Linked DNA regions of Homo sapiens. The protein of the gene in region 1 interacts with the protein of each later gene in a pairwise test. Each region holds a gene or a part of one and is shown in the gene's direction. Other genes may lie near its edges. The genes, in order: CD36, LYN and UNG.

The links.
Region 2: the proteins of CD36 (region 1) and LYN interact in binary tests that used the Homo sapiens proteins (3 or more experiments, as listed by UniProt).
Region 3: the proteins of CD36 (region 1) and UNG interact in binary tests that used the Homo sapiens proteins (3 or more experiments, as listed by UniProt).

What each region holds. Positions count from the first base shown.
Region 1 is NC_000007.14:80,669,613-80,676,724, forward strand, and holds part of CD36 (platelet glycoprotein 4), read left to right. Parts: intron 1-340; coding exon 341-410; intron 411-1,364; coding exon 1,365-1,552; intron 1,553-2,309; coding exon 2,310-2,428; intron 2,429-3,157; coding exon 3,158-3,231; intron 3,232-3,742; coding exon 3,743-3,797; intron 3,798-4,370; coding exon 4,371-4,535; exon of another isoform or gene 4,536-4,808; intron 4,809-6,495; exon of another isoform or gene 6,496-6,771; 3' UTR 6,772-7,112.
Region 2 is NC_000008.11:55,945,795-55,952,906, forward strand, and holds part of LYN (tyrosine-protein kinase Lyn), read left to right. Parts: intron 1-653; coding exon 654-699; intron 700-1,823; coding exon 1,824-1,929; intron 1,930-4,664; coding exon 4,665-4,763; intron 4,764-4,886; coding exon 4,887-4,990; intron 4,991-6,171; coding exon 6,172-6,321; intron 6,322-7,112. UniProt on the Homo sapiens protein: Non-receptor tyrosine-protein kinase that transmits signals from cell surface receptors and plays an important role in the regulation of innate and adaptive immune responses, hematopoiesis, responses to growth factors and cytokines, integrin signaling, but also responses to DNA damage and genotoxic agents.
Region 3 is NC_000012.12:109,100,527-109,107,638, forward strand, and holds part of UNG (uracil-DNA glycosylase), read left to right. Parts: intron 1-1,375; coding exon 1,376-1,473; intron 1,474-2,312; coding exon 2,313-2,401; intron 2,402-2,906; coding exon 2,907-3,085; intron 3,086-7,112. UniProt on the Homo sapiens protein: Uracil-DNA glycosylase that hydrolyzes the N-glycosidic bond between uracil and deoxyribose in single- and double-stranded DNA (ssDNA and dsDNA) to release a free uracil residue and form an abasic (apurinic/apyrimidinic; AP) site.

The sequences.
Region 1 (7,112 bases):
TGCCTCCCAAGTAGCTGGGATTACAAGCGCCTACCACCACACCCAGCTAATTTTGTGTATTTTTAGTAGAGATGGGGTTTCACCATGTAGGCCAGGCTGGTCTCAAACCCCTGACCTCAGGTGATCCACCCGCCTTGGCCTTCCAAAGTGCTGGGCTTGCAGGCATGAGCCAGCATGCCTGGCCGGTTATTTCTTTTTACCTTTTAAAAATGTGGCTGCTAGATAAATTACTTAGGCAGTTTGCATTACATTTCTATGGACTACACTGGAGGAGAGATTTCTAGGTTTTTTTCTAGAACACACATTACATCTAATCATTTGCCACTCGATTTTTAAACAGATGCAGCCTCATTTCCACCTTTTGTTGAGAAAAGCCAGGTATTGCAGTTCTTTTCTTCTGATATTTGCAGGTAAGACAGATACTGAAGTATAAGTATGTCTGAGTCAGACCCCAGGTGACAAAATGCAGACCAAGAAACTTAAACACAGCATAGGAAATTCATCATGTTTATTAACTAACTCTTTGCAAAATGTTCTTCTGCATCTTCCAATTTTTAATAGTACAAATTTTTTTTTTTTTTGCCATTTCTATCTAAGCAAGAACCATTTTGCCTTTTAAAAACTAAACTAGTAGTCTATTAACGATCAAGTCCAGAAGGGCGTGCCCAATCTTTCTAAAGACATACAGAGAAGATGATGCAAATGTAACAGAACTGTGTTAATGTGCTCTGCTCAGATTTGTGGGGCCCAGTAGATAACACACAAGCACTGGAGCCTTTACCACTACCCTTGAGCCCAAGCTCTGTCCCTAAAGACTGTATGCTTGTGGGTAGGCATTTAACATCTCTGAATTTTTTTCTTATCTGTACAATTTAAGACAGCAGTATTTCTTCATATACGTGTATCTGGGGATAAGAAAAATATGTGTATTGAACCCTATGATAGACACTTGGTAAACGATGGAAATGTACCAGGTATATATCCAGCATGTATATGCATACACTCCAGTGAGTGGTCTTTCTTTCCAGGATTAATTAAGCCGTGAAAGAAACTATTTCATTTAAACTGATCACAAATAAAGTATTTGAAGGAAGTCCTATAAATATTTACTCTATTGGATAAATTGCCTGTGAGAAGTAACTTGAGTATAAATAAACATGGTACTTCACAAACAAGAATAGTTCATGCTTGGCTATTGAGTTTTAGTATGTGTTAAAATTTCCCAATCACTTTTTTTCTAAGAATGAAACAAGAATTTAAAAGAGTATATGATGTTTCTAAGTTAAAACAAGAATAAGAAAAAATGAATCTCCAGAATGTAAGTTCAGGTTCCTGGAATGCAGCTCTTTTTTCTCTGTATTTAGGTCAATCTATGCTGTATTTGAATCCGACGTTAATCTGAAAGGAATCCCTGTGTATAGATTTGTTCTTCCATCCAAGGCCTTTGCCTCTCCAGTTGAAAACCCAGACAACTATTGTTTCTGCACAGAAAAAATTATCTCAAAAAATTGTACATCATATGGTGTGCTAGACATCAGCAAATGCAAAGAAGGTGAGTAAATAACCTCAGTAGCACAGTCCATACCATAATTTGTGATATTCTTTAAGATGAGAACTTTACCATAATCCTTTAGCAACCAAAATTTAAAATATATCATAATTTGTGATATTCTTTAAAATGAGAACTTTACCATAATCCTTTAGCAACCAAAATTTAAAATTAAAGTAAGAAAGTAATTAGGGCAGAAGAAAGAATGGTGGCAGAAAATTTTAGTGCTGATTTTGTATTTTGGGAAGATCCCACTTGTGTTTCAGTATTACAAAATTTAGTTAAAACCACACCAGTATTTCCTTGTGGCTGCTTTTAGATTTAGGGTGAAATGAAAATAATTCCGAGAACACATTAAACATCCTGTTATTCATCTGTCCTAACTTTTTTCACTAGAAAATGGTACAGGTAAATGTATTTTCAGTATGTATCTAAAGCTAGAGTTAAACATAAAATTTGGAGACTAGCTTATCCTGTACATATTTATCATACTAACGTGGGTGTGGAAGAAGAAAGAAAAAACTAGTGTTAAATAAATTCTTAGTCCATAGACATATTACTGCCTGAAAGCTTTACATATTGAAAATTAATACTGAAGGAGTTTATAGTAGAAATCAACTGACATAATTCTTCCCCACCCATGTTAAAAACCATGTATTTTTTAATGCAAGAAGCTTTAGTTTTGTGGAAATATTTTTTGAGTTATATGTGAAATGAAGGAAGTTATTAATTCCAATTGACTCTTAAAACTTGTCTTCAGGGAGACCTGTGTACATTTCACTTCCTCATTTTCTGTATGCAAGTCCTGATGTTTCAGAACCTATTGATGGATTAAACCCAAATGAAGAAGAACATAGGACATACTTGGATATTGAACCTGTAAGAAAACACCTTATTGATCTGATTTGGTTGATATTTTTAAAAATACAATTGAAATAAAAATAATCTTGTCGATGATTATTTATTCAATAAATAATCATATTTATTGAATCACATTCTTGAAAGTTACTGAAACTTAGGTCGATTTCTTCCTATGGTTTATGAAGTGATTCTAATTGGCTTAAAATAATTTTATATAAATATTTATGTTTAGATGAGGAGTTATTGTATATTATGCAAAAGTCAAAGAGTATATGTGAGTTTGACTATACTTATTGTCAAAATCTATAAAATTGTTGTAGCGCAACAGTTTTAATCATCTTTATTTTTGTATTTTCCTTTTCAAAAAGTAAATGAAATTCTAGGATTTTAGTAGTTATGTTTTAGTTTAAACAATGACACATGGATTCTAACTGAATATATATTTGACCAGGAATTATCTGAGATCTTATATTTTGTTGCTGATTTTTGATTTTTTAAAAACCATTTCAAGTAACTCACAAATCTAACTAACTAAAACCTTGACATTCGATTGGGCAAATAAATTGTGTGTATCTATATGGATGCATGTGTATATAACTATAACTATATATGCAGTTTTAAAAGTTTCAATTAGTCCTGTTTAACCTTAAGTTACTACCTTCTCTTCTGCTGTAAGAAAAATAAGTTTTGAATAGTATAAAATAATGTTTTTAAAAGTTGGTAATTATTTAGTTGTTCTCTTTTTAGATAACTGGATTCACTTTACAATTTGCAAAACGGCTGCAGGTCAACCTATTGGTCAAGCCATCAGAAAAAATTCAGTGAGTCTCTTGAAAATGGTTATTTTGATATGATCTGTAGTATCGTAGTATCTTCTTGTAAGAACATGAGTAAATCTATGTAAGTAAGTGGAAATAACATCTGATATCAACTTATCTTTAGCTTAATGTCACCAATCATTATTAAATGCTTATGACTAATTTCACAGATTTTGGAATGGTTTTATGGTTTTATTTGAGCATTTGATAGCATCTCTTATTTTGTTAGCTGCCCAAATATTTCTATGACAATAATTAATTTTTGGAATTCATATTTCAGTTCCCCGAGAATTTATTGAAAGGAAAAATCCACACTTGTGAAAAAAAATCAATGTGATTAGAAGACATATAAGAGCAAAGGAAGTCAAAAACAACTATATTAAAATTTAAATGAGTCATTACAGGAACAAAATCAAATTAGCAACAGCAACTAATTTATGAACATTTATTTTAAAGTTTGTTATATATAAATATTAGTTTATATGTTCATAATTATTTTCAACGTATATTACAGAGTATTAAAGAATCTGAAGAGGAACTATATTGTGCCTATTCTTTGGCTTAATGAGGTTTGTATTTGCAGCTGTTAGTCATTAAAAACAACCTTCTTTGTATATAAACAAGCTCTTGATGTTTCAAAAGAATGTATAGTATTTAAAGCTATATGTATTTCCATTACCCATATGGATGAGTATACATTTATTTAACCTATTTGAGATGATCCAATTGAACAAAAACATTTCCTATCATTTAAGATTTTCTTCAAAAATGCATCTATTAAACACATTTTCTTGTTGTAACATTTGTCTTCTATTGCCTGACAAGGTATTTTTACTATAAATCCATGCATTGATAGCTATAAAAATAGGAAAAACATTGAATAAGTCTTTGGAGCAAATGAAACTGTTGACCCTTTGATAGTTCTGAAGAGCAAATGAATCCTAGTACATTGAAGAGTACCGTACTCTATCTGGCACTTAATTGCCTTTCTTGACTTGCAAAAGGAATTCCATTAACTTGCCTTATAGATACTGATGACTAACACCAATAGAGGTGTTAGAAAAAAGGGTGATAGGCAATTGAAGGGTTTATTTTGTTTTACTAACGTACCCAAATAATGTTGATTATTAACTTGATTACAGACTGGGACCATTGGTGATGAGAAGGCAAACATGTTCAGAAGTCAAGTAACTGGAAAAATAAACCTCCTTGGCCTGATAGAAATGATCTTACTCAGTGTTGGTGTGGTGATGTTTGTTGCTTTTATGATTTCATATTGTGCATGCAGATCGAAAACAATAAAATAAGTAAGTATGTACCAAAAAATATTGCTTCAATAATATTAGCTTATATATTACTTGTTTTCACTTTATCAAAGAGAAGTTACATATTAGGCCATATATATTTCTAGACATGTCTAGCCACTGATCATTTTTAAATATAGGTAAATAAACCTATAAATATTATCACGCAGATCACTAAAGTATATCTTTAATTCTGGGAGAAATGAGATAAAAGATGTACTTGTGACCATTGTAACAATAGCACAAATAAAGCACTTGTGCCAAAGTTGTCCAAAATTGACTGGTTCATTTCTCAATTATATAGCTAGTTATATATTATCTGATACTTAAAAATAATTGACTAGGAAATGGTTTCATAAGACCAGGATTGCTGCATGTAGACATGCTGGCCGTGCATTTTCCAAATCCAGAAAAGTCCTGAACAAAAATTTGAATATAATAGTATCAGGAAATAGGGGAAAATAGTGTTCAACATAGTAGAACCAAGTACTCAGAGTGGTGTACAAGAGTTTAGGCCTCTATGCTTTAGATATTAGTGTCCATGCACTCTTAAAGATGAATGAATGCCTGACCTTTCCTAAAGGAAAACCTTTTTTTAGTTATCACAGGTAACATTGGTGTTGCCTGTGGGGGAGAATTTTTTACTTTCTCCCTATTTTTCTTCAGCCCACCTCAAGGCAATGTAAATAAAAGCAGTATGTGTGTTATAATAACTTATTTAGTTGTTTACTGTGTGCCAGTACCATGCTAAAGAAAGATTCTTTATCTCACATGATCCCTAATACAATTTCATGATTTTCCAATAGCCTGGATTCATCAGCATCCATTCTATCTTCTAGAGATGTTCCATGAAATCATACATTTTAATTGTTTGTGACCAAAGCATAAATCAGTGAAAGTGGAATTTGGGGACCAATAATTTCCTTTTGTGAGATGGAGAGCTTGTGTTTGAAAAGGCAACCTAATTTTTGGTTCTAATCACTTCTACCACTATTTAGTCACCAAAAAGACAATAATTCTGCATCCAAACTATTTGGACAGAATGGCTTCAAAATGCTAGCCTAAAATGTTCACATTATAAAAAGTTAAATATTACCTTCAATACCTGTCAGTAGCCTACTGACAAATTATGACTAAACAAAGGTATTTGTATGACTATGTAATAGATCATCCGCTGAAAAGTAAAACAAAATAACAAAAAAACTTGTCCTAATGGGAAAGCATGCTTAATAAAAGGAAATGCAGAAGTTATAAACATGTTTTGTAAGTAAGTATTCAGAATTAAAATTATGTGATACATTTTTATGATTGCTTAATGATCCTTGGATGTCAGATTCCTTGGGTCTATTTATAGCTAAATTATAATGAAAAATTCAAGGCTTGCTGGAGCAACTTTGTCAACAAATATATTAGTTTTGCTTATATATTTGATTTTTATGTGGAAAAATTACTACCCTTTTTTACAAGCAGAGAATAAACTGTTGATTACTTGATTTACTAGATTTAGAAGAATCACAAAAGATATGTAGATTTTCTTAAGCAAAATTCAGCTCTTAATATCATAAAAATTATATCTTTGGGCAGATTTGTAAACAATAGGAACAAGTAAGAAGACAGGTATGTAAGAAGTAGCAAAGTGTAAGACGGTGGAGCTTTAATGTGTGGTTTTACTCAGGGGGTCACAAGAAAATAACCCAATGGTCCTTTTGAAAGTAGTACATACACCTTTAAATGGAACTTGGTCTGAAGGGTGTGGAAATGCTGGTCCAGGGCAGATGCACTTCAGCTACCGTTCCTTGCCTGGTGTGTGCTTGTCTTGAAGCACCCTTCTTATGTGCCTTTCTGGAATGGGAATGTGTTTTGCCCTATTGGTGAAGTCCGTTAGAGAACTTCTCTCTGCAGCTAGAGAAACTGAACTGATTAATAAAAAGTATGATATCTAAGATATACTGCCACTCTACAGGTAGTAAATGATTCTTCACATTTGTGCGCCAGCTACATCATGACCCTTGGTAATACCGACCAACAGGATGAAAATTGGATATGCTTTACTTTTACAAAGCACACCTTATCTTTTAGTTGAAGAAATGGTGGCACTATTTCTTTTTTTGCACTAAGCAACTGCACATTTCAAAAGGATTATTGAGATGTTATGAAAATCTCTACCTTGCACAAAAAAAAACCCAGCAGCTTTTAAAATTCATCATTTCCACAACTGAATTGATTTCCGTTTCTACAGACCTGGCTCAAGCACAAACCAATTTGTGTTGTTCTGATTCAATAATTGGTTTCTGGGTGGCCAATTCAGAAGAAGAGTGTACATGCTCAACAAATCCTAGGCCCTGCATTCCTGTCATCCTCATCCGGGGGAAACACCATCATCCCAGTAGCTGCCCTATTCAACTGCAACAGTCTCCAGGACCATCAGTATACTGCATTTCATGTGCACCAAATATTTTGAAAGACATTTATAAATAATTGGCTTATGACTCATATTTCTCTATGAATACCTTCATACAGCAGGTATAACTCTTTTCTTTATGGGCTTAAATATTTTGTCACTGATCCTGCAAATGGACA
Region 2 (7,112 bases), on another chromosome or scaffold:
AAACCTGGATGGGATGGGACTTGCTCTCAGCCTCCAGGGACAGAGCCCTGACCATGCAATTTTATACAATTGGGGAAGCCTCAGATGGGCAGTCCCAGGCTGGGACGGCAACTCCACGAAATCACCAGGGTCCCACCTCTTCCGTCTCCATCCTGCTGCCGCTGGTGTTTGCTTTCTATGTGAAGACTCCAGCCTTCACTTGTTTCTAGGGAGAGAGAAAGAGGCAAGGGAAAAGGGGAGCTGACAGCAAAGCCCTGCACAACCGATCTGCGGACCAAAACTCCCTCTGCCCTCTGCCCGGGGCTAGAGAGTTTGGAAGCACACTCATTGAGCTGGGCAAACTGCCACCCCAAATAATATTAGGGCTCTGTCACCAAAGAAGAGGAGGAGCTAGGATGAGGTGAGCACCTGGCACCTGCCCAGAACCTCGCTCCCTTCCTGCCACCCACAGCAAGTGATAAAGAGCCCTGTCACTGGCCAAGCAGGGCAGGATGCACCTCTACAGGTTTTTCCCTCTGTGCTCCTGTTCTTTCTGACTTAATAAATGAGCCCATCCTAACATCTGCTACTGTTACAAAAATCATATATACAACACGAATGTGAGTAAGAAAAGCTAAACAGAATTTTTTTTTCTAACAAATATTCTCTCGTAGGTTCCAGAATCTCAGCTTTTACCTGGACAGAGGTTTCAAACTAAAGGTATGTTTTCATAGCAACATAGTTAAAATTTTTTTTCTTTACTATTAGAGCTTCTATAAAGTGATTGTCCTAAATGTTTTTATTTTTTTTTATTGTGGGACATATATAACATAAAAATTTACCCTCTTAACTATTTTTAAGTATACATTTCAGCAGCATTAGGTACATTCACATTGTTGTACAACCAATACCGCCCTCCATCTCCAGAATGCATCTTCTCAAACTCCATACCCATTAAACAATAAGTCCCCATTGCCTCCTCCCCCAGCCGCTGGCAACCTCCGCTCTTTCTGTCTTTATGAATTTCACTACTCTAGGTACCTCCTAGAAGTGGAATCATACAGTAATTGTCCTTTTGTGTTTGGATTATTTCACTTAGCCTGATGTCCTCAAGGTTCATCCATGCTGTAGAAAGTGTTAGAATTTATTTCCTTCTAATAGTGAATAATATTTCCTTGTAAGTATATGCCCTGGCCGGGTGCAGTGGCTCACACCTGTAATCCCAGCACTTTGGGAGGCCAAGTTAGGTAGATCACCTGTGGTCAGGAGTTCGAGACCAGCCTGGTCAACATGGTGAAACCCCGTCTCTACTAAAAACACAAAAAATTAGCCAGGCGTGGTGGTGGGCGCCTGTAATCCCAGCTACTGGGGAGGCTGAGGCAGGAGAATAGCTTGAACCCAGGAGGTGGAGGTTGCAGTGAGCCGAGATTGCACTATTGCACTCCAGTCTGGGCGACAAGAGCGAGACTCCGTCTCAAAAGAGAAAAACCAAAATGCTACATGATGTTTATCCATTCCTCCATCAATAGATGTTTGCATTATTTCCACATCTTGGCTATTTTGAATAATCCTGCTGTGAACATGGGTGTATAATTTCTTAAATATAGAGTTGTATTTATAGTTTTAGTTTTAAGTGATTTGCAAGAACAAATACTGGACACAGTGTATACAGCAAGGTACTCTCTGTGGGCCGTGCAGACCCTGAGCCCACTAGGCAGGAAGCACATGTCCTTCTTCCAGTTGCCCCCTCTTAGTGCTTCCTCTCATCCTTTGTGCCCCATGAGGTTTGTTAAAACGCTTCTGCTGATGGATTCTTACAGGTGTTCTCTTGTGTTCATCTTTAGATCCAGAGGAACAAGGAGACATTGTGGTAGCCTTGTACCCCTATGATGGCATCCACCCGGACGACTTGTCTTTCAAGAAAGGAGAGAAGATGAAAGTCCTGGAGGAGTAAGTGCTCTCAAGCACGCCACGGCTGCTCGTTTCCTCAGGCCACTGAGTCCTGCAGGCTGTCCCCTTGTCTTGCTTCTGGTGCTACAGCCATAGCCCGGCCCCTTTCTTGTAATGGGTATGAGGCCTCCTTGCTACCCACAGGGAGTGGGCAGTGGAAGGAATAGAGCCAAAGGGATTTTCCTTTTAAGTCGGTCTGTGAGCACACTTCAGGGGGTTTCCCTTTGAAGACAGACAGTGGTTTTTCTTTAAAACAATTTTTTTTTTTGAGATGGGATCTCTCTCTGTCATCCAGGCTAGAATGCAGTGGCATGATCATAGCTCACTGCAGCCTTGAACTCCTAGGCTAAAGCAATCCTCTCACCTCAGCCTCCTGAGAAGCTAGGACTACAGGCATGTGCCACCAGGCCTGGCTAATTTTTAAAATTTTTGTAGAGATGGGATCTTGTTATGTTGCCCAGGCTGGTCTTGAACTCCTGCTGTCAAGCAATTCTCCTGCCTTGGCCTCCCAAAGTGCTGGGATTACAGGTGTGAGCCACCACACCCAGCCTGGTTTCTTTCTTTATCCACTCTTGCCACCTTAAGAAATTTGGGTCTGTGTGGCCCATGCATGATACTTGAAATGTCACTTTTCTTTTGTTATATTACTCATGTTTAGACTGGGTTCATGGGCCCAGCCTAGCTTGAGTTCTAAGGGTACTGAGCTACAGCAGCTGTGTTGGGAAATTCTCAACTCAGCAGCTGCCATGCTTTTGTGAGGACGCCTGAGTGTCGTCATCTCCTCAACCCCCTCTTGCTGACTCAGACATGTGGCAGTGTCAGACCATAGGCATGCAGGACAGTGCTCAGAATAAGAAACTCCAGTTGCTTTAATTCTAGCTTGCTTTTCTTACTAATCTTGCATTAAATGTCACTGTGACCTGCCAAATAGGGTTTGAGGGGGAGACTCCCTTATTAAGGACAAGGTGTTCCGTGGTTGAGAGCAATGTTGCATATGGGTTGAACAGGGACTTAAGCCTGATCCTGGCCCTGCCACTTGATAGCTGTATGACCTTGACAAGACCCTTAAACTTTATACCTTGGTTTCTTTACTTATAAAATGGGAATGACAGTACCTAGATCATGGGGTTGATGTGAGCATGATGCATGTGTTTAAACATGACATAAGCAAAGAGGATGCAGAGCTTAGTATTAGTTCTAGTTGCCTTCATGCCTTACAGACAAGGATCCTGTCTGTGTGTGGAATTTATAGAGGAATGCAGTTAAGGCTCAAAGGGACCCATTCCTTCCCCCATTACCAGCTTACCTGCTTGCTTCTTCCAGTGCTCATCCCTGCCTCCTCCCTGGCTCCATGCCTGCCTTTCTGCTGAGGACTCGAGCATGGTGCTGAAGCTCACTTGCTTGGAATTGTCTTATGGTTTTCTTCTTTTCATAGTGTCCATCTCTATGATAACTAGATGTTTGAACAAAGGAGTTTATAATGCATGAACTGTGGACCAGTATTCCCTTGACTCTCATTTCTATAAGGATTTGAAAGCATTTCTTAGCTATCCTGGGGCAAGTTACAAACCTTTTGTTTCTGTGAGATGGGAGCCATTTGTACCAACTCTTCTTTGTGCACCCCTGATCGCAGTGATGCGTGCTTTAGTTGTAAGGCTGTTTTCCTTTGCTTCTGTCTCTAAACATATTTTAATTCCATCACGGAGAGTGAATTTTCCCACTGGATTCTGGGGTTCCAGAGATGTTCTCCACCCGCCTTCACCATCCTAAACAAACATCTTGAGACAATTGCTATTGTAGCTGTTGAGTCTTGGATATAAACACTTTTTTCCTTTTATTTTTAGTTGACATGGAATAATTATATGCAGTCATGGGATACAGAGCGATATTTTGATACATGTATGCAGTGTGTACGGATCAAGTCAGCGTAATTAGCATATCCATCATCTGGAACATTTATTCTTTCTTTGTGTTGTGAACATTCAAAACCCTCACTCCTGGCTTCTTTTCTTTGTCTCTCTCTCTCTCTTTTTAATAGCTTTATTGAGAATTCACAATACCATACAATCCATCTACTTAAAGTGTACAATTCAGTGATTTTTTTAGTATAGTCACAGAATTGTGCAATCATCACCACAATCCATTTTAGAACATTTTAAATACCCCAAAAGGAAACCCTGCACCCCTTAGCTGTCACCTCAACTCTCCCATTCTCTGCAGCCCTAGGAAACCACGAATCTACTTTTTATCTCTGAAGACTGACCTATTCTGGATATTTCACATAAATGGAATCATACAATATGTGGTCCTTTTTGACTGCCTTCTTTTATTTAGCATAATGTTTTCAAAGTTCATCCCTGTTGTAGCATCTCTCAGCACTCCATTCCTTTCACTGCTGAGTAATACTCCACTGGATGGATATTCCAGATTTTGTCCATTCATCAGTTGATAGGCATTTTGGTTGTTTCTACTTTTTGCTTTTACAAATAAGGATGCTTTGAACATTCATGTACAAGTTTTTGTGTGGACATTATGGTTTCATCTTTCTTGGGTATATGTCAAGGAGTATAGTTGCTGGGTCCTGTGGTAAGTCTATGTTTTCTTTATTTTTAATTTTTTAATTGATATGTAATATCTGTACATAAATACATATTTATGGGATATCTGTGATATTTTGATACATGCATGGAGTATGTAATCTTTTAGCTTCTTTTTGATGTGTATTTCTATTCTAGGCATGGAGAATGGTGGAAAGCAAAGTCCCTTTTAACAAAAAAAGAAGGCTTCATCCCCAGCAACTATGTGGCCAAACTCAACACCTTAGAAACAGAAGAGTGAGTCCTCATGTGTTGTCATCTTGGTGGCTTTATTTGCCACATTGGATTTCTTGTTAATATTCTTCACCTTTTTCTTGCCGTGGAACATAATATGCAGGAAATGTTGAAATGTCTTCACAGGTGGTTTTTCAAGGATATAACCAGGAAGGACGCAGAAAGGCAGCTTTTGGCACCAGGAAATAGCGCTGGAGCTTTCCTTATTAGAGAAAGTGAAACATTAAAAGGTAGGAAATTGTTCAAAGCCTCTTTTAAAACACTATTTAGGAAATTATTTTTAGAAACTATTCTAGAGCTACTCAAGGGGAAAAAAGGGCATATAGTATGCTCTGGTAGTAAAAGTTTTATGGTTTGATAACAAATAACAAACCTCAGTGATTAGTTGTGCTACTAAAAGTAATATAGTTGAGTGTGGTGGCTCACACCTGTAATCCTAACACTTTGGGAGGCTGAGGCGAGAGGATCACTTGAGTCCAGCAGTTAGAGACCAGCCTGGGCAACACAGCAAGACCCCATCTCTACAAGAAATACAAAACTTAGCCAGGCCTGGCAGCACATGCCTATAGTCCCAGCTACTCTGGAGGCTGAGGTAGGAAGATCACCTGAACCCAGGGAAGGGAGGCTGCAGTGAGCCGTGATCACGCCACTGCACTCTAACTAGCCTGAGTGACAGAGTGAGGCACTGTCTCAAAAAAAAAAGAGAAAAGAAAAGAAAAGTACTGTAGAAAGCACACATGATTGTGGCCAGTTCTTACCAGGCTTTGTTTGCTGAGCCTTTTGCATTATTATTTGAATAAATCCTGAAGTTTTAAGACAAAGAAAATTAGGCTGGGCGTGGTGGCTCAGGCCTGTAATCCCAATGCTTTGGGAGGCCGAGACTGAGAATCACTTGAACCCAGCAGTTTGATACCAGCCTGGGCAACATAGCAAGAGCCTGTTTCTATAAGAAATTAAAAAATTAGCCAGCTGTGGTGGTGCATGATCGTAGTCTCAGCTACTTGAGAGGTTGGGGTAGAAAGATCGTTTGAGCCCAAGAGGTGGAGGCTGCAGTTAGCTATGATTGTGCCACTCTACTCTAGCCTGGGTGACAGAGCAACAACCTATTTCAAAAAAAAAAAAAAGAAAATCAAAGTAACTTAAAAAAATTTAAATGTAGCTAAATAATAATTTTAAAAAAATTATCATGAAGAAAGAAAATGGTATGTTGGCAAGCTACACAGCAAACAAAATGCCAGCTTCATTTGTCAAGTAGAATTTTTATAGGACTTTTAAAATTATGCATTTTATACAAATTTCATAAATATATGTATTTTGCATATTTGTATCACAAAATGTGTACTGCAGTTGTTGTATAATGCAGATCTTATTTGTGAGATATAAACATTTACTTACACTTTTCCCCCCATAGGAAGCTTCTCTCTGTCTGTCAGAGACTTTGACCCTGTGCATGGTGATGTTATTAAGCACTACAAAATTAGAAGTCTGGATAATGGGGGCTATTACATCTCTCCACGAATCACTTTTCCCTGTATCAGCGACATGATTAAACATTACCAAAGTAAGTAAAAACTGAAGGTTCAACAAGACAAGATATATTTGTTATGATATGTATAAGACGTCAAACGCTATTTTTATATTAAAACTTTTTATGCATCGTATTTCTCTTAGATACAGTTGCAGGTCATATTCTATAAGTGGTTCTAAATTAATCTATAGTTAGGCCAGGCACAGTGGCTCACGCCTGTAATCCCAGCACTTTGGGAGGCCAAGGCAGGTGGATCACTTGAGGTCAGGAGTTCGAGACCAGCCTGGCCAACCTGGTGATACCCCATCTCTACTAGAAAAAAAAAAAATTAGCCAGGCATAGTGGTGCGTGCCTGTAGTCCCAGCTACTCGGGAGGCTGAGGCAGGAGAATCACTTGAACACAGGAGGCGGAGATTGCAGTGAGCTGAGATCGCGCCACTGCACTCCAGCCTGGGTGACAGAGCAAGACTCTGTCTCAAAAAACAAATACTAAAATAAAAGCAATTAATTAATCTACAGTTAAATACACAAAGTAAGATTTGATCCTTGTGAATAATTCTCCCAGTCCTTCCCACCTAGTACATGCTGTTTGACATTCAGTGTTCCACAATTACCAAGAGAAAAATATATATTGTCTTTGCATATATTTTTACAATGCATCTGAATATCTGGAATAGGAATGCAGATTTGCAGATCTGTGTTTGTGTGTGTGTGTGTAAAAGTAATGTATATTCTTGGTAAAGTCAAACGGATATAACACTACCACTGAAATATTTAGAAGTGGCAGGTCAATGTCCCTGTCTCCAGTGCCACTTTGCAGTCCT
Region 3 (7,112 bases), on another chromosome or scaffold:
CTCTTTGGTTTTGAAGCTAAATTAAATCCTATTAAGATCAATACTAATTTGCTTCTTGTTTGAATGCCCTATTCTGAATACCAGTAATCAGTATAAACAGGGAATATTAAAAGGAATATTTTGAGGGAATGCTCAAAAACCAGTTTCAAACCTATGAGGATCAGATGGGCCAGCAGGGCTTCTTGACAGACCAGCATTGGGAGAGTTGTTTCACAAGAGAATATGTTGGCATGGTGTGAACACCAAGGGGAGGGACAAGAGGTCCCCAAAAGCCTCCTGGTCATGGAACATCTGGAGCTGGATTCTGAAAGATAGAGTATGTCAGCTGTGGAGGAAGATTCTAAGAACGCAATGGCAGAAGCTTGAGAATGAAGACTAGGTGGGTGGGCCCTGGATGGGAAGGACGAGGCGGCCTATGTTTCAACACCTCCCGTGACAGGAACTTCATTTCATTTCATTGTCTCTTGCCACCTACTCCCATGGCCCTTTTGATCTGACCTCATTCTCTTCTGGCTCCACCTGTTAGAGGATATAGGGGAGCAGACACCCTCATATGCTGCTGGTGGGAAATCTGAATTGCTTTTTTTTTTTTTTTTTTTTTTTTTTTTTGAGATGGAGTGCAGTGGTGCAATCTCGGCTTACTGCAACCTCCACCCCCTGGGTTCAAGCGATTCTCCTGCCTCAGCCTCCCGAGTAGCTGGGACTACAGGTGTGCGCCACCACACCCAGCTAATTTTTGTATTTTTAGTAGAGATGGGGTTTCACCATGTTGGCCAGATGGTTTCGATATCTTGACCTCGTGATCTGCCTACCTCGGCCTCCCAAAGTGCTGGGATTACAGGCGTGAGCCACCATGCCAGGCCCTAAATTGCTTTAATTCATCGAAAAGTAACTGGGGGCTAGGCACAGTGGCTCATGCCTGTAATCCCAGCATTTTGGGAGGCCGAGGAGGGAGGATCCCTTGATCTCAGGAATTTGAGACCAGCCTCAGCAACATAAGGGAGGCCGTGTGTCTACAAAAAGTAAAAAAAAAATTAGGTGGGCATAGTGGTGCACTCCTGTGGGCCCAGCTACTCTGGAGGCTCAGGTGGGAGGACCACTTGAGCCCAGGAGGGCGAGGCTGCCATGAGCTGTGATGGCACCACTGCACATCAGCCTGAGCAACACAGCAAAACCGTGTCTCAAAAAATTAAAAAAGCAGCTAGGTACATATCTTTACAAGTTTAAAATACGCTTAGCCTTTGACCAGCAACTCTGCTATTAGCAATCTATGCCATAGAAGTGTTTTATTTGTTTTGTTTATGTTTGTTTGAGGCAGGGTCTGTGCTGCTTACATTACAGTATTGTTTAATTCCTGACCCCTGGTGGTTCACAGGTGAAGGTTGTCATCCTGGGACAGGATCCATATCATGGACCTAATCAAGCTCACGGGCTCTGCTTTAGTGTTCAAAGGCCTGTTCCGCCTCCGCCCAGGTACAGTTGCTTTACAGGTGACTGCAGTCCAGACATGATTCCTTTCAGATGTGTACTTAGCTTATTACAAGTGGGACTATCTGGGGCACTGTTCACTAGCCTTGGAGGAGGATTTCTCGGCCTCAGCACCATTGACATTTGGGGCTGAGTCATTCTTTGTTGTGGAGGAGGAGAGGAGTCCTGTGCTATTGCAGGATCTTGTGCCACATCCCTGGCCTCTACCACTGGAAACCAGGAGCAACCCCCAGCTCGTGATAATGAAAAATGTGCAGACATTGCCAAAAGTCCCTTGGGGGCGTAAAATCACCCCTGGTTAAGAACCACTGCTTTGGGCCGGGCGCGGTGACTCACGCCTGTAATCCCAGCACTTTGGGAGGCTGAGGCAGGAGAATCGCTGGATCCCGGGAGGCGGAGGTGGCAGTGAGCCGAGATCCTGCTACTGCACTCTAGCCTGGGTGACACAGCAAGACTGGAAAAAAAAAAAAAAGAACCACTGCTTTTGGAGGATTTGGTGTATGATATACATAAATATGCTAAGGACAGAAAACTGTCCCTGAGCAACAGTGGGGGTCTGGGTTGTAACTGCTGGGTTGATTTACTTAGGTTTTCCAGAGTGCTGTTAAATCCAAGTACAGACTAAAGTAAAGGTCTTTGGCAGAGTCACCTGTTAGAAGGAGGACTGGCAGTGTTGATCTCATTAATCGGCGCCATATGTGCCAGTGTCCCTTCCAAGGGCTGGCTGTAACTTCTAACCTTTTCACATATGTCTTAGACGTTACTGAGCTTTCAAAATTATGCTTAAGATTCTGTTTTTTGTTTTTCTTGTGGCTTGCTTTCAGTTTGGAGAACATTTATAAAGAGTTGTCTACAGACATAGAGGATTTTGTTCATCCTGGCCATGGAGATTTATCTGGGTGGGCCAAGCAAGGTAAGCCAGCGACTGCTAGATTTTTTTTTTTTTTTTTTTTTTGAGACCGAGTCTCACTCTGTTGCCCAGGCTAGAGTGCAGTGGTGCAATCTCAGCTTACTGCAACCTCTGCCTCCCAGGTTCAGGCGATTCTCATGCCTCAGCCTCCTGAGTAGCTGGGACCACAGGCATGAGCCACCATAGCTGGCTAATTTTTTAATGTATTTTTAGTAGAGACAGGGTTTCACCATGTTGGCCAGGCTGGTCTCGAACTCCTGACCTCAGGTGATCCGCCCGACTCGGCTTCCCAAAGTGCTGGGATTACAGGCATAAGCCACCACGCCCAGCCCCGACTCCATTGTTGATGGTAGTGGCTGCTGCCATTATGCCGGCTGCAGCAGGGAAGCACAGCTTGCTACACTGGATCCCATCAAGCATTGGTTTCATCATGGATTTAGCTCCTGTTGCTGGGTATTGGGCTGATTTGCCTGAGCCTACATTTAACCTGTTTCTCTCATGTGTATAGGTGTTCTCCTTCTCAACGCTGTCCTCACGGTTCGTGCCCATCAAGCCAACTCTCATAAGGAGCGAGGCTGGGAGCAGTTCACTGATGCAGTTGTGTCCTGGCTAAATCAGAACTCGAATGGCCTTGTTTTCTTGCTCTGGGGCTCTTATGCTCAGAAGAAGGGCAGTGCCATTGATAGGGTATGTTTTGTTTTCTTTCTTTTTTTTCTTTTTTTTTTAACACTATAAAAACAATGTAAAGAATTCTAGGAGTCCCTGCTGTGTTTGGTCCTGGAAAATCCATGTTATAAAATAACTTTTATTTTCCCTTAGGCCTGTTATAAGGGTTTCCCATTGAAAACTGAGAAGAATTTGGACAAATTATAGGGGTGATGAGTTGTGTATGAGGAAAGCAAAGCAACTGGCCAACTTGTGACTGAATGCAGTTGGTGCTGTAGGCATGAACTTGGTGTCTACAAGATACAAGTCCCTGGGTACCATTCACTTAACAAGTGATGGATGAGGCATGTTTCTGGCTTCCAAGAAATTTGGGAACATATAGAAAACACAAAGAATTCCACTCAATCACAAATTTAACTTGCCCATGAAAATACTATCAGTGATCATTATTGTTTTGTTTCTGGGTTTTTTGTTTTTTGATGGAGTCTCGCTCTGTTGCCCAGGCTGTAGTGCAGTGGTATGATTTTGGCTCACTGCAACCTCCGCCTGCTGGGTTTAAGTGATTCTGCCTCAGCCTCCCGAGTAGCTGGGACTACAGGCGCCCGCCACCACACCCGGCTGATTTTTTTTTATTTTTTAGTAGAGACAGGGTTTCACCATGTTGGCCAGGCTGGTTTTGAACTCCTGACCTCAAGCGATCTGTCCTCCTCAACCTCCAAAGTGCTAGGATTACAGGCATGAGCCACCACACCCGGCCTATCGGTGATCATTATTAACCCCAAGGTCTAATTGCAGATACCCAACACGACCAAACCAGTGGCTCCCCTCCCTACATCTTCCCCCTATCTGCTACCTCCCTCTTTCCCTTCACTCACTGAAGCACTTCTACACCTGGTTGTGGAAATCAGAGACCTAAAAGTCATCCTTGAATCCTCCATCCCATCAGTAAATCCCATCAACTCTGCCTCCCAAAACACCCCAGTCTACTGCTTCTCATTCGCCACTGCTGCCCTTCAGGCATGAGTCACCATCATCTTTCTCCAGGAGAACCGTGATGGACTAGAGATGGAGGCTTGATGGAGAGCCGCAGAGTGGAGGAGGGAGAGATAGGGGGTGGGAAGGAGACGAGCCAGGGGTGTGTTCATCCCTGGCAAATGGGAGAGACATTGGGTGGGGGAGAAATTATAGAGTAAATGCTTCAATGATCGAAGGCAAGGGCTTAGCAGAGGTAACCTGACAATAGTTTTTGGTGTATCAGCAGGAGGTAACGGGGGTATCAGAAATGTGCACGTATATTTAACCCCTACCTTGTGTGGGTACTAGGTTGAGCACTTTTGTTTTTTGAGATGGAGTCTTTCTGTCACCCAGGCTGGAGTGCAGTGGCATGATCTCGGCTCACTGCAACTTCGCCTCCTGGGTTCAAGCACTTCTCCTGCCTCAGCCTCCTGAGTAGCTAGGATTACAGTTGCCTGCCACCACACCCAGCTAATATTTTTTATTTTTAGTAGAGACTGGGTTTCACCATGTTGACAAGGCTGGTCTTGAACTCCTGACCTCAAGCGATCCTCCCATCTTGGTCTCCCAAAGTGCTAGGATTACAGATGTAAGCCACCGCACCCGACCAGGTTGAGTACTTTGCATGCAGAATCTTACTTAACTCTCAGAAAGGCTTTGAGGTAGGCATACACTTGTATGAGTGACCTAAGATCTGACTGGTATGAACTGCTAAGATGTGATCATCTAGGTATGTAAGAAGTGTGCGTGAGAGTAATTGCTAATCTCTATCCCTTAGGGAGGTTTACGGCCAGTGTTGCTCTTCCGCAGTATATTGGTAATCTTTAATCATGGTTTGGTCTGAAAGTAAACAGTTGTTAAAGTAGCTTGGTCATTAAAGCCAAATTGCATATCTCCAGCCCAGTGTCTCTTCTGATCTATAGAGTGCCTTGTTACTACTGCCCCATGAACATGCCAAATTCAACATTTTCCAAACGAAGTTTCTCCTTTTCTCATCCATGCTTCACTAAACTTCCTCCTCTGCACTCCCTAGCAGCAAAAAGCACCATCATCTGCCCAGTTGTCCAGCCAGATCTATTACTGACACCTGCCTACCTCTCTTTCTCCCCTCTTCTGTCCTTTTTTTCCACCTTCCCAGTCAGTCAGTCATTCATATCTGTGTTCTTTCTTCCCCCTCCAAATCTACCCCTGCCTGACCACCTTTGCCTTCATTCAGGCCCTCACCTGATCTTGCCTGGAGGGTTCTGATGCTTTCTCCCTGGAAGGCCTTGCCTTAGGCTGAAGATCTGATTTCAGGGGGGTAGAGGGGTGGCCCCCAATCGGCCTCCCAGACTTAACTCTATCCCTCTTTGCACTCCGATCCCTAGGCTGACCCATTCCCCTTTACTTTTTCACGGTGCCCCACTTCCCTGCCTTTGCATATCCTGCTTTCTCTGCCTACAGTGTAGAGGTCATTTTCTTCTGGGATTCTTTAGAGCTCTGCAGGGCTGACATTTACAGGGGCCTGTGCTGCTTGCGTGTGTGTTCAGCATTTGGTGTGCATGACTTCTTATCACACTCAGCCCCTGTGATCCTCATTTGATTGGTCACAGTAACTTCATAAGCTGGGCGGTATTGTTATTCCCAGTCTACAGATGAAAACTGAAGCAGCTTAGAGTTGCAGCAACTTCTCTGTGGTACAGCTACTGAGGGTAGAGGTAGGCCTCGACCCCGGGCAGTCTGGCTCCAGGCTCTGTACTCTTAACCACACTGGATTGCCTGGCTTTAGTCCTCACCCCTCATCGCCCCTCCTGGACTGAGCCCCTTGAAGGCAAGAGTGTTTTGAGAAACAGTGATTTGTTCGTTAGTTTTTATATACAGAAAAGAAGAGGAAAACAAAAATGGTCTATATCTCCCTGTTAAAATAACTATAGTTGATATTTTAAAAAAATCAAAGTAGTCATTTGCCACATAATGATGTTTCAGTCATAAACTGTATATATGACGATGGTCCCATAAGATTATAATATTCTGGCCGGGTGTGGTGGCTCATACCTGTTATCCCAGCACTTTGGGTGGCCGAGGCGAGTGGATTGTCTGAGCTCAGGAGTTTGAGACCAGCCTGGGCAACATAGTGAAACCCTGTCTCTACTAAAATACAAAAAATTAGCCAGGTGTGGCGGCGTGTGCCTGTAGTCCCAGCTACTTGGGAGGCAGAGGTTGCAGTTAGCTGAGATCATGCCACTGCACTCCAGCCTGGCAACAGAGTGAGACTCTATCTCAAAAAAAAAACATATATATATATACACATATATATATACGTATATATATATGTGTATATATATATATATAAAAAATATTTTTACTGCATCTTTTCTATGTTTAGATACACAAATGCCTACCATTGTGTCACAGTTGCCTATAGTATTTAGTACAGTAACATGCTACACAGGTTTGTAGACCAGGAGCAATAAGCTACACTATATAGCCTAGGTGTGTAGTGGTAGGTTATCCCATTTGGGTTTGTGTAAAGATGCCCTGTGGTGTACGGATAGCAGTGAAATTGCCTAACAACACACTTCTCAGAATGCATCCCTGTCATTAGGTGATGTATGACTATTGCTTTTTTTCTTTTGAAACAGGGTCTAGCTCTGTCACCCAGGCTGGAATGCACTGGCTTGATCTCAACTCACTGCGGCCTCAACCTCCCAGGCTCAAGCAATCCTCCCACCTTAGTCACCTGAGTAGCAGGGACCACAGGCGTGCGCCACCACACCTGGCTAATTTTTGTATTTTTTTTTGTGGAGACAGGGTTTCACCACGTTGCCCAGGCTGGCTCTTGAACTCCTGGACTTAAACGATCCTCCTGCCTCGGCCTCCCAAAGTGCTGGGATTACAGGCGTGAGCTACCACACCTGGCCACTGACTATTCCTCTTTTTTTTTTTTTTTTTTTTTTTTCTGAGACAGTTTCACTCTTGTTGCCCAGGCTGGAGTGCAATGGCGTGATCTCAGTTCACTGCAGCCTCCCCCTCCTGGGTTCAAGTGATTCTCCTG